Homo sapiens: one gene and its partners. The protein of the gene in region 1 purifies or fractionates together with the protein of each later gene. This does not show direct contact. Each region holds a gene or a part of one and is shown in the gene's direction. Other genes may lie near its edges. The genes, in order: PLEKHG1, SPANXN5 and TMOD2.

Region 1 (3,656 bases):
TATCAGCACATTGGGACAGGTTGATGCCACTAACTATTAAATGCTGTCTTTGGGATTGACATTGACATCCATGGAAACTGAAGAATAGGAAGGGCATATCCAAATCTTAAATGAATGCACAAGTTACATAACAAGAATCTGTAGGGAACTTTTTTTTTTAAGTTTGAGAGTATTTAAGAATTGTCTAAAGTTTTAATCTTCAGTACAATTTCTTAACAGATAGGGAAACAAAGTGCTGGAATTGATGCCTGAAGGATTTCACAGACTCTGAGTTCTTCTTTTTAATCAAATGAAGGTTTTGTATGCATGTGAGACTAGAATGCATGTATTTTTCTCCTTGCCATGATGCACTATGAGTAATTCAAGTCCCTATTCTGATGCTAGCGTTGCTAAGCTGGTTTGCTGTTACAGGGAAAGTGACTGAGTTCCCGCTGCAGGAGGACAATTTTGGTGGGGTAGGGGAATATATATGGCCTTAGAAACAGTTGTATATTGGCAATTGCAAGCACTGACTAAGTCTGGGTTGGGGCTCCTCAGCATAAGAGGAAATGTAATGCTGAAGTTTTTGATGATGATGGGTTATGCCCACAGACTACCACTGAAAAAGTAGTAATTCCCTGGGCCAGGTTGTTTTGAATATGGACCATCTGTTAAAATACAAAGCTCCAATCTTGACAGAAGCATGTCCTTTGATACTGAATCATTAGGGCCTACGACTACCTCGAGTAGTCTTCTTTTTTACCCACCTTTTTAAGTATTAAATGATTTCACATTGGGGTTTTCTTTTCACTTTTGGTTGGCTCTCCTTTTTGTTTTGCCTGCTGGTGTTGTCTTGGGATGCCCCAGGATCTTTTCTCAGCTTTGCGTCTGGGTCCTTTCTTGACATGGTGGGCTCCTGTCGACGTTCTCCCCAGCAAGGAGGAGGAAATCTCTCCCGAGTCATCTTCTGAGAGTGCTGTCTTCCCTGCCATCTGGCAGAGGCACGTCCCTAGGACCTGATGAGTTATATCCACACCTCGTCCAGCTGGGTGATCGAGACCACTTCCTGTGCCCACTAGGCTTTCCGTCAGTTGACATGATGACTCCTTTTCTCTTTCTTGTTTATCTGGGCACAGGACGTCGTAATCGAATGGACCGATTCTCCAGACTTCTCCGTGTGGGCCTTGCCGCTTTGCCAGGAGCTTGCTCTCGGTGCTGTGCGGAAGGAGGAGCACCTTATTCACCTGCCGAAACTCTCGAGCATCTTTATTGAACTCTCTAGCCGGGGTCTCCAGGCCCTGGGTCAGATTTCTGCCTATAAATCACCCAACCAGGTCCAGTTGCTCCCATATCTTAGAGCCTGTCATAGCATGCTGGCCATCTTGTTCCATCAGACCTTCCTCCTGATAGTCTTTGAGAGCAAGGAGGCCTTTGGGTTTCTGGGTTTTTTGGTGATGTTTCACATGGGAGAAAACTCCATACAGGCTTGAGAAATTTTCCTCCTTGTGTAGAGTAGGGAAGGCACAATTTTATGCTTTTGTCTGCATCTCGAGCAACATCAGAAACATTTATTTTAATCCTCTGTCTGGAGGATTAAAATGTTGTTTGATATTTCCCTTGGCAAACATTATTCTAAATTTTTGTCTGAGATCATAAGAACTCCAATTTTCAAATCTCAAAAAAGGCAATAAACCAGAGACATTCTTGCGATTGTCATGTAGTCATAATGTATATATTCTATACAACTGTTAATACTAGAACTAAGGATATGGGGGAGCCTCAACTCAGCTGACTAATACTAAGCTTTTTAGGCCAGAGGTGTCATCTCAGGCTGGCTGTTCCCTGTACATCTGGCTAATAGAATCTGTTTAATTACAGCTGGAGCTCTGGAAGCTTGTCTCTTGTTCACATAGATGTCACACAAGCTATAGACTCTCTTAGAAGGTCAAGCTGAAACAAAAAGCCCCTTAGATCAGCAGGTGCAGTGACTCACACCTGTATGGCCAGGCACAGTGACTCACACCTCTATTGCCTACTAGTGAGATACCTTTTATTCAAAATTGATAAATGGTCAACTCTATCATCCAAAGATAAACTGTTCCCATTATGAGTTATCTATAGGAAGCATTTTAGCTGTCTTCTTGCTTCTGCTTTTTCTGCTTATGACCTGATTTCCAGGCCACCTTTCCACTCCCAGTGGTATGGTCTCAGGAAAGTGCATCCCTTTTTAAAAGTAGGCTTAAAATGAAAGGAGTCTGGGTGCAGTGGCTCACATCTATAATCCCAGCACTTTGGGAGGCTGAGGCGGGCAGATCACTTGAGGTCAGGAGTTCAAGACCAGCCTGGTCAACATGGTGAAATCTCGTCTCTACTAAAAATACAAAGAATTAGCCAAGCGTGGTGGCGGGCACCTGTAATCCCAGCTACTCTGGAGGCTGAGGCAGCAGAATCGCTTGAACCTGGGAAGTGGAAGTTGCAGAGAGCCGAGATTGCGCCACTGCATTCCAGCCTGGGCAACAGAGTGAGACTCCATCTCAAAAAGATTAAAAAATAAGTAAAATAAAGAAGGGAGTGAAAAAAATTCTGAGTAATGAATTAGTTATTGAGACCACTTTCTGTCTAAACCATGCTAGGTCCTCTATAGGGAGTTGAACAAAATGTACAGCATTGTTCTCCCAGACCAAAAGCTCAGAGGCCAGGCGAGGTGGCTCACACGTGTAATCCTAGCACTTTGAGAGGCCAAAGCAGGAAGATTGCTTGAGCTCAGGAGTTTGTGACCAGCCTGGGCAACATAGCAAGACTTTCTCTCTACAAAAAATTTAAAAGTTAAAAATTTCCAGGCACAGTGGCTCATGCCTATAGTCCCAGGTACTCAGGAGGCTGAGGCAAGAGGATTATTTGAGCCCAGGAGTCTGAGGCTGCAGTGAGTTATGATTGTACCATTCCACTCTAGCCTGGCCAACAGAATAAGACCCTGTCTCAAAAAAAAAAAAAAGAAAAGAAAAGCTCAGGGACTAATAAAGTAACTTACATAAAATGGCCAGGTGCAGTGACTCACACCTGTAATCCCAGCACTTAGGGAGGCTAAGGCTGGTGGATCACTTGAGATCAGGAGTTCGAGACCAGCTTGGCTAACATGGCAAAACCCTGTCTCTACTATAAATACAAAAATTAGCCAGGCGTGGTGGTGGGTGCCTGTAGTCCCAGCTACTAGGAAGGCTGAGGCAGGAGAATCACTTGAACCCAGGAGGTAGATGTTGCAGTGAGCCAAGATCCTGCCACTGCACTCCAGCCTGGGCAACAGAGTGAGACTTTGTCTCAAAAAAACATAAAATGAAAATAAAGTAACCTACATAAAATAATTAGCAACACAGCAATACAAATTGTGTGTGTCTGCATGTGTGTGTGTGTGCACACACAGGCAACAGCTAGGTACACACTATGTAAGACTTCAGAGAAGAGAAATCAGAAAAGGATTCAAGTAAGGAGAAGATAGGGCTTATGGAGAATCTTGAGAGATGAGTAGGATTTGATTAAGCAAAGGACAAGGAGTGTATAATAAGACAAAGGCATGGGAAATACTGTGGATATTTTGGATGATATGTGATTTCAGATTATCTGGGCTAAAGTCAAGATCTGATTGTTCTTACAAGACTTAATGGTTAAATTTTGATACT
Region 2 (3,370 bases), on another chromosome or scaffold:
GCACAATCTTGGCTCACTGCAAGCCCCGCCTCCCGGGTTCATGCCATTCTCCTGCCTCAGCCTCCCGAGCAACTGGGACTATAGGCACCAGCCACCACGCCTGGCTAATTTTTTGTATTTTTAGTAGAGACGGGGTTTCATCGTGTTAGCCAGGATGGTCTTGATCTCTTGACCTGGTGATCTGCCTGCCTCGGCCTCCCAAAGTGCTGGGATTACAGGCGTGAGCCACTGCGCCCAGCCAAAAACAGTCACTTTTAGAAGCAAATATTTAGCTTTCCAGATGTGTTACTCTCCGATTTTGTTTCCCTCTCCATGTCTTTTTCTTTGCCTCACTGCTTATGATGTATAACTCTTTCACGTCTTAATGCCAATAATGATAGTGATACCTTAAAACTTATATTACCATTTAATTAATTATACAAATGGGAATACTTTCCGGTGAAAAATGTGTCATTATTCATATTGACATGATGACTATAGGTGAAAACTGGATGCAAATTTCTAATATATAACTTCTACTAGATAAACATACAATTGATTTATATGTTGATCGCTTACTCTGCAATCTTGCTAACCTCAATTATTGTAGAAGCATTTTTTTTAGATTGATTTTCTACATACACTCTCATGTAGTCTTTGACAAAAGATACTTTTACTTCTCCCTTCCAATCTGAATGCATTTTTTTTTGTCACTGGACACAATCTCCAGTGCAAAGCTTAGCTATGCCCACATTCTTGCACATATTAGTCTTAGATTGCAGTATCCTGCAGGTAAATACTCAGGACAACTTCCAGCACTTGAATATTTACTCCTTCCCCCACCCCACATACTGGTAGAATTCATGTTGGGATACTACATTTACTATGAACATACACCCCTGATTTGAAACAAGACTAGGATGCAAGGTAAAGAATGTTAATTCACTAAAGTTTTGACAGACTGAGGCCATTGTTTCAGATTGGAAATAGGAAACTTAAAAGAACTACATGGACATTGGGTAAAAGAACATGGGTTGAAATTTGCCTGGCAGTAGCCCAAGAGTAAATGGTCTTCAAGGTGCATATGAAGGAACTGTAAGAGGGAAATGGGATAATTCACATCTCCACCAATAATTAAATGTAGCCACACTAGCTTGGGGGATTTGAGGTGAGACATCTAAAATACTAAGTCATGGTGAGGGCTGGAAGACAAAAGAATGAATCACTTAATAGGAATGGCTGTGGGGAAGGGCTTGACAGAATCAACCTCTCACTTCCATGTGAACCATGAACATTAAACATGGAGAAATGAGGAGCGGCAGCAGATCAGTTTGGGATGCGTCTTCAGGGGATGCTGAAACAACAGCAGCATTTGGTTTCCTCTACACCCCTGTCACCCCTCCCCCACAAGCCCAGGGAGTGGTCAGCAGTGGTGCTTTGTGATGTCTAAGCCACCCTTGGACTGCCATTGGCTGGGACACTGCCTGTATGATCAAACAAAGCTCAAGGGTGTGGCTTTGCCTTGTCACCAGGAGGGTATATATAGGGAGGGCAAGAGCTCTGGGCCACTGGGAAGCTTCAATATAGCTGTGGAAGTCTGGACTCTACAAGATCCTGCTGTAGACATTCAACAACCAACCAGAATCATGGAAAAGCCCACTTCAAGCACCAATGGGGAGAAGAGGAAGAGCCCCTGTGACTCCAACAGCAAAAATGATGAGGTAAGATTGTTAGGTTTTGAAGTGAAGGCGAGGGTGAAAGAAAGACACACAGAGAGGGGGCAGCTCAAACAGCAACACAGGAATACTGCAGACGCTTGTGGAAGTGGGGGACCAGCTTAATGCCAGATCCCACCACCGCTTACAGCCTGGGGTACTTACAGGTATGGGTGGGAGGGATCTGGGCAGCATGGCTTGCTGCCCAGCAGGATATTGATAAGATGTTCTTATGATCAGGTGGTTTGGCCCTTTTTCTGGTGGAATATCGTTGTGGTGTTCCTTAGAACTTTGCCAAGCAAGATATGATAGGGATGTTTCTTTAGTTGGGCCTTTGTCTGCCTTGTGGACAGGTGGTTAGGCAGGATGTTTCTCACGGCCTGAACCCCCATGGGATGTTTCACTTTGACCAAGGTCTGCAAAATAGCAAAGAACTTACAAAATGGTGCAGTTTGGACTAACAGATGACCCTACCCATGCTCCTCTTCTTCCCCATAGATCCCTACCCTGTGAGTCAACCTTGTTCTTCTCTGGATCGAACCCCTTCCTCAACCTGCATTCCTTCTCATAAAGCCCCCCTTGCTATCCAGTCTCTATCCTATTCACCCAAAATAATGTCTTTCTGGCCTCTCCCTGTTTTCTTAACAGATGCAGGAGACACCAAACAGGGACTTAGTCCTCGAACCGAGTTTGAAAAAGATGAAAACATCAGAATATTCAACAGTATTAGTGTTGTGCTACAGGAAGACTAAGAAAATACATTCAAATCAACTCGAGAATGACCAGTCCTGAGAGAACTCCATCAATCCAGTCCAAGAGGAGGAGGACGAAGGATCCTCACAGGAGGACGAAGACCTAGACTCATCTGCAGAATCTTCAAAGCAGGATGAAGACCTACAATTACCTGAAGGATCTTCACAGGAGGATGAAGACCTAGGGTTATCTGAAGGATCTTCACAAGAGGATGAAGACCTAGACTCATCTGAAGGATCTTTGATGGAGGAAGAAGACCCAGACTCATCTGAAGGATCGTCAGAGGAGGGTGAGGAAGACTAATTAAACATGGAGAAACCAAATTGGACAAATCCTCACCACCAACGGTGATGATTACAATAAAATCAAGTTTGAGAAGCTGATGGCTGCATATATCTATGCCTGTTTTCTGATGGTGGGGGAGAAGGGAAGGGAAGAGGTAGGCATTTGAGAAGGGAGGGATATGAGGTCCTGTAGGGTTGGTGGACAGACTCACAGGTTGACAGTAAGCCAGACATTGTAAATAAGGCCTGGGGGAGCACTGATTCCTAAAGAAAATTTTCTTCTTAAAATTTCCTCCCACAGGAAGTGGAGATGTGTATATGTTCATGCAACTGTACCCGGCAGCACATAGTTCTGCTGAATGTACATATCAAAGGTATTCCCATCCCTTTTCCATTTGATATTTTCCTAGGTTAGAAATATATGCTTTATAAAGAGTTAATGTTCTGTAAAACACAAAGCACAATACAGACATACACAGACACCTCTGCTCACTCTCTCTAGAGGGATACAATTAAAAACATTGGTTATAGGGCCGGGCACAGTGGCTTGCGCCTGTAATCCCAGCAGTTTGGGAGGCTGAGGTGGGTGGATCACCTCAGGTTTGTGAGGTTTTCAAAGAAAGATCTTGATCAAAAGAG
Region 3 (3,656 bases), on another chromosome or scaffold:
ATGCCTGTAATTCCAGCACTTTGGGAGGCTGAGGCAGGAGGATTGCTTGAGCCCAGGAATTCAAGACCAGCCTGGGCAATATAGTAAGACCTCATCTCTGCAAAAAAGAAAAAAAAATTTAATTAGCTGGGCATGGTGATACACACCTGTAGACCCAGCTACTCGAGGGACTGAAGCAGGAAGATCATTTGAGCCCAGGAATTGGAGGCTGCAGTTAGCTATGATCAAGCCAGCCTGGGCAACAGAATGAGACCCTGTCTTTAAAAAAAAAAAAAAATTCAAATAGAATCTTATAAACTCTAAGATACCATTGATTGTAAAACTCTCCAGTATTTTATGTATCACTAAGAAAAAAAGGCTGGCAATCAAAATATAACATGTTTTCTTAAAAATACAAATTTTTGGCCGGGCACGGTGGCTCATGCCTGTAATCCCAGCACTTTGGGAGGCCGAAACAGGCAGATCACGAGGTCAGGAGATCGAGACCATCCTGGCTAACACTGTGAAACCCTGTCTCTACTAAAAATACAAAAAAAATTATCCGGGCGTGGTGGCGGGCACCTGTAGTCCCAGCTACTCAGGAGGCTGAGGCAGGAGAATGGCATGAACCCGGGAGGTGGAGCTTGCAGTGAGCCGAGATTGCGCCACTGCACTCCAGCCTGGGTGTGAGTGTGAGACTCTGCCTCAAAAAAAAAAAAAAATACAAATTTTTGGCTGGGCACAGTGGCTCATACCTGTAATTCCAGCACTGTGGTAGGCCAGGCTGGGAGGATTGTTTGAAGACTGGAGTTGGAGACCAGCCTGGACAACATAGTGAGATCCTGTATCTTCAAAAAATAAAAAAAAAATAGCCCGGCATGGTGGTGCACACCTGTAGTCCTAGCTACTTAGGAGACTGATGTGGGAGAATCGCTTGAGCCCAAGAGGTCAAGGCTGCAGTGAGTTGTACTGACATACAACTGAACTCAAGCCTGGCAACAGACTGAGACCGTGTCTCAAAAAATAATAATAATTTTTACTTTATTGAAAGAGCTGTTTTCGACTTCCACATAGGTTTTTTGAAATCTTTTTTACTGAAGTGTAAATGACATACAATAAAGTGCACATATTTCAAGTGTACAGTTTGATAAGTTTTGATATATGCATGTATGTGTGAAACCATCACCACAATCAAGGTAGTAAACATATGCAACATCCCCAAAAGGTTCCCCATGCCCCTATGTCATTCCTCTCATCAGCCCCTCCCACCTCTCTCCCATGCCTAAGCAACTGTGATTTCTTTCTGTCATATAAATTAGTTTATGTGTTCTAAAATTTTAGATAAATGGAATCCTGCAGTATACATTCTTTTTGGTCTTCTTTCTCTCATTATAATTATTTTGAGGTTCATCCATGTTTTTGTGTACATCAATAGTTCATTCCCTTTTATTGCTGAGAAGTATTCCATTATGTGGATATACGACAATTTGTTTATTTTTATTTATTTATTTAGGGACAGGGTCTTATTCTGTTGCCCAGGCTGGAGTGCAGTGGTGCAATCATAGCTCACTGCATCCTCGACCTCCTGGCTGAAGCAATTCTCCCACCCCAACCTCCCGAATAACTGGGACTACAGGCATGTGCCACCATGCCCAGCTAATTTTTAAAAAAAAAAATTGTAGAAACGGGGTCTCACTGTGTTGCCCAGGCTGGTCTCAAATTCCTGGGCTCAAGAAATCCTCCTGCCTCAGCCTCCCAAAACATTGGGACTACAGGCGTGAGCCACTGCACCTGGTCACAATTTGTTTTTTATTCATTTACTATCATTCACATTGTTTTCAATTTTTGGCAATTACAAATAAATGTGCTATGAATATACATGGATTTTTAAAATCATATATCTCTCCTGTGCATACATTAAAAGGGGAAATGTAAGTGAAATGCATTCATTAGTTGATATTCTTAAAACTTCTTCACACTCAGAGTCCAACATTTTAGATCACTATTTTACTTATCCATATCTGGTTCTTTTCCACATAATAATTTCCTCTGTGCCATCGAGTGGTAATTTAAAAAATCTGTAAAAAAACAAAACTAAAACTAAAAGCCATTGAACTGGGCACTTAAACTCACTCTGTAATTATGTGGAACTGTCCTAATCTGGGCCTCTCTTCAGGAGTGCTGCTAAACATACCTGCATTGTCACCTCCCCACGATTGTCTGCTTTCTAAATTTTAAAAGAGTATTCCACAGTTGTCCCTGGGATTTCCTTCCAAGACCTTTACATCCACTCTGCTAGTTTTGAAGTTGGTGCTTTTGATATTTAGGTATATACAAGCAATGACAAGTACATTTTTACTGCTGCTGGGACAACAGTAATTGTAGGACACCATGAATTCTAAGACACATCTCAATTTCAGAATGTTAAATGTGGCAAAGTATGCATTTTAGAATCCATTAAGTAGGGTGCTTCAACCAATTCATTTGATGGATAAGGGCCTGGAAGATGCCATCCTTGTCCTGTGTGATGCAGTAAGTTAGTGGTAGCTGGCACCAGAACAAAGTGTATAGGATCCAATTGGTTTCTCTGACTTTAGTAGAATTTTTGTTTGTTTATTTACTAGAATATAGTCATTAAAGATTTAAAAAAAAAAAAGGAGGGCTGGGAGACCTCATCTCTACAAAAAAAAATTAAAAATTAGCTAGGCATCGTGGCACATGCCTGTAGTCCCGGGCTTCGTGTTGCACACTTGTAATCCCAGCTACTCCAGAGGTTGAGGTGGGAGGATCACTTGAGCCCAGGAGCTGGAGGTTGCAGTGAGCCGAGATGGTACCACTGCATTCCAGCCTGGGCAACAGAGGGAGACCCTATCTCTAAATTAATAAATAAGAAGCTGAGCTAATGGAAAAGAGCGTTGCATTGCATGTGAAAGGGGTATCGACACAGAAACCACAAACCTGAACATTGTGAGCCGTTGAATTCACAAAGGAAAGGGAACACTATTCCAATAGCCCTTAAGAGGCCCACCTGCAGCCAGTCTCGTTCCATGCCAACTCATTCTTCATTCTTATGATTTGAACTCATAAAAAAAGATTGGCGTGCTCAGATCACTCCCCTACTTTAAGAAGCTGTGGTGGCTTGCCATTCCCAACAGAATAAAGTTCAGGTCCCTTAGCAAGGCGCAGAAGGAAGGCCCTTCACAGATGTCCCACCCTCGTCTTTAGTTCTTTCCTCTCCCTTCCTCCATGAATCCCCCTCTGTAGCCATGCCGCCTGCTCTACCAGCATATCATTTACTGTCTTATCCTGTACCCCTTTGTGCTGTTCCCTTTTCCTAGAATGACACTTGCCCATTCATGTCCACCTTATGACCTCCTCCTTCAATGTTCAAACACAGCCTCTTTTTCACAGTTTCCCCTCAAACTTCCCCCACTTACTCAGTGATTATTTCCCCATGTGTTTTCAAACCTACTTTTTACATTATGTCTAATACTTACGGCATTATTGCTGTTTGTGTGAGAGTCTCACTAAGCTGTGATCTTGGGGAGAGGGGGCATTTTGATAAATATAATTTTTTTTTTGAGAGAGTCTCACTCTGTCACCCAGGCTGGAGTGCAGTGATGCCATCTCAGCACTGCAACCTCTGCCTCCCGGGTTCAAGCAATTCTCCTGCCTCA

What was found.
Region 2: the proteins of PLEKHG1 (region 1) and SPANXN5 purify together in Homo sapiens (affinity purification with mass spectrometry, with the first as the bait; one large-scale study listed by BioGRID). This does not show direct contact.
Region 3: the proteins of PLEKHG1 (region 1) and TMOD2 purify together in Homo sapiens (affinity purification with mass spectrometry, with the first as the bait; one large-scale study listed by BioGRID). This does not show direct contact.

Annotation. Positions count from the first base shown.
Region 1 is NC_000006.12:150,833,863-150,837,518, forward strand, and holds part of PLEKHG1 (pleckstrin homology domain-containing family G member 1), read left to right. Parts: intron 1-3,656.
Region 2 is NC_000023.11:52,795,604-52,798,973, reverse strand, and holds SPANXN5 (sperm protein associated with the nucleus on the X chromosome N5), read left to right. Parts: upstream 1-1,546; 5' UTR 1,547-1,625; coding exon 1,626-1,700; intron 1,701-2,342; coding exon 2,343-2,486; 3' UTR 2,487-2,830; downstream 2,831-3,370.
Region 3 is NC_000015.10:51,761,463-51,765,118, forward strand, and holds part of TMOD2 (tropomodulin-2), read left to right. Parts: intron 1-3,656. UniProt on the Homo sapiens protein: Blocks the elongation and depolymerization of the actin filaments at the pointed end. The Tmod/TM complex contributes to the formation of the short actin protofilament, which in turn defines the geometry of the membrane skeleton.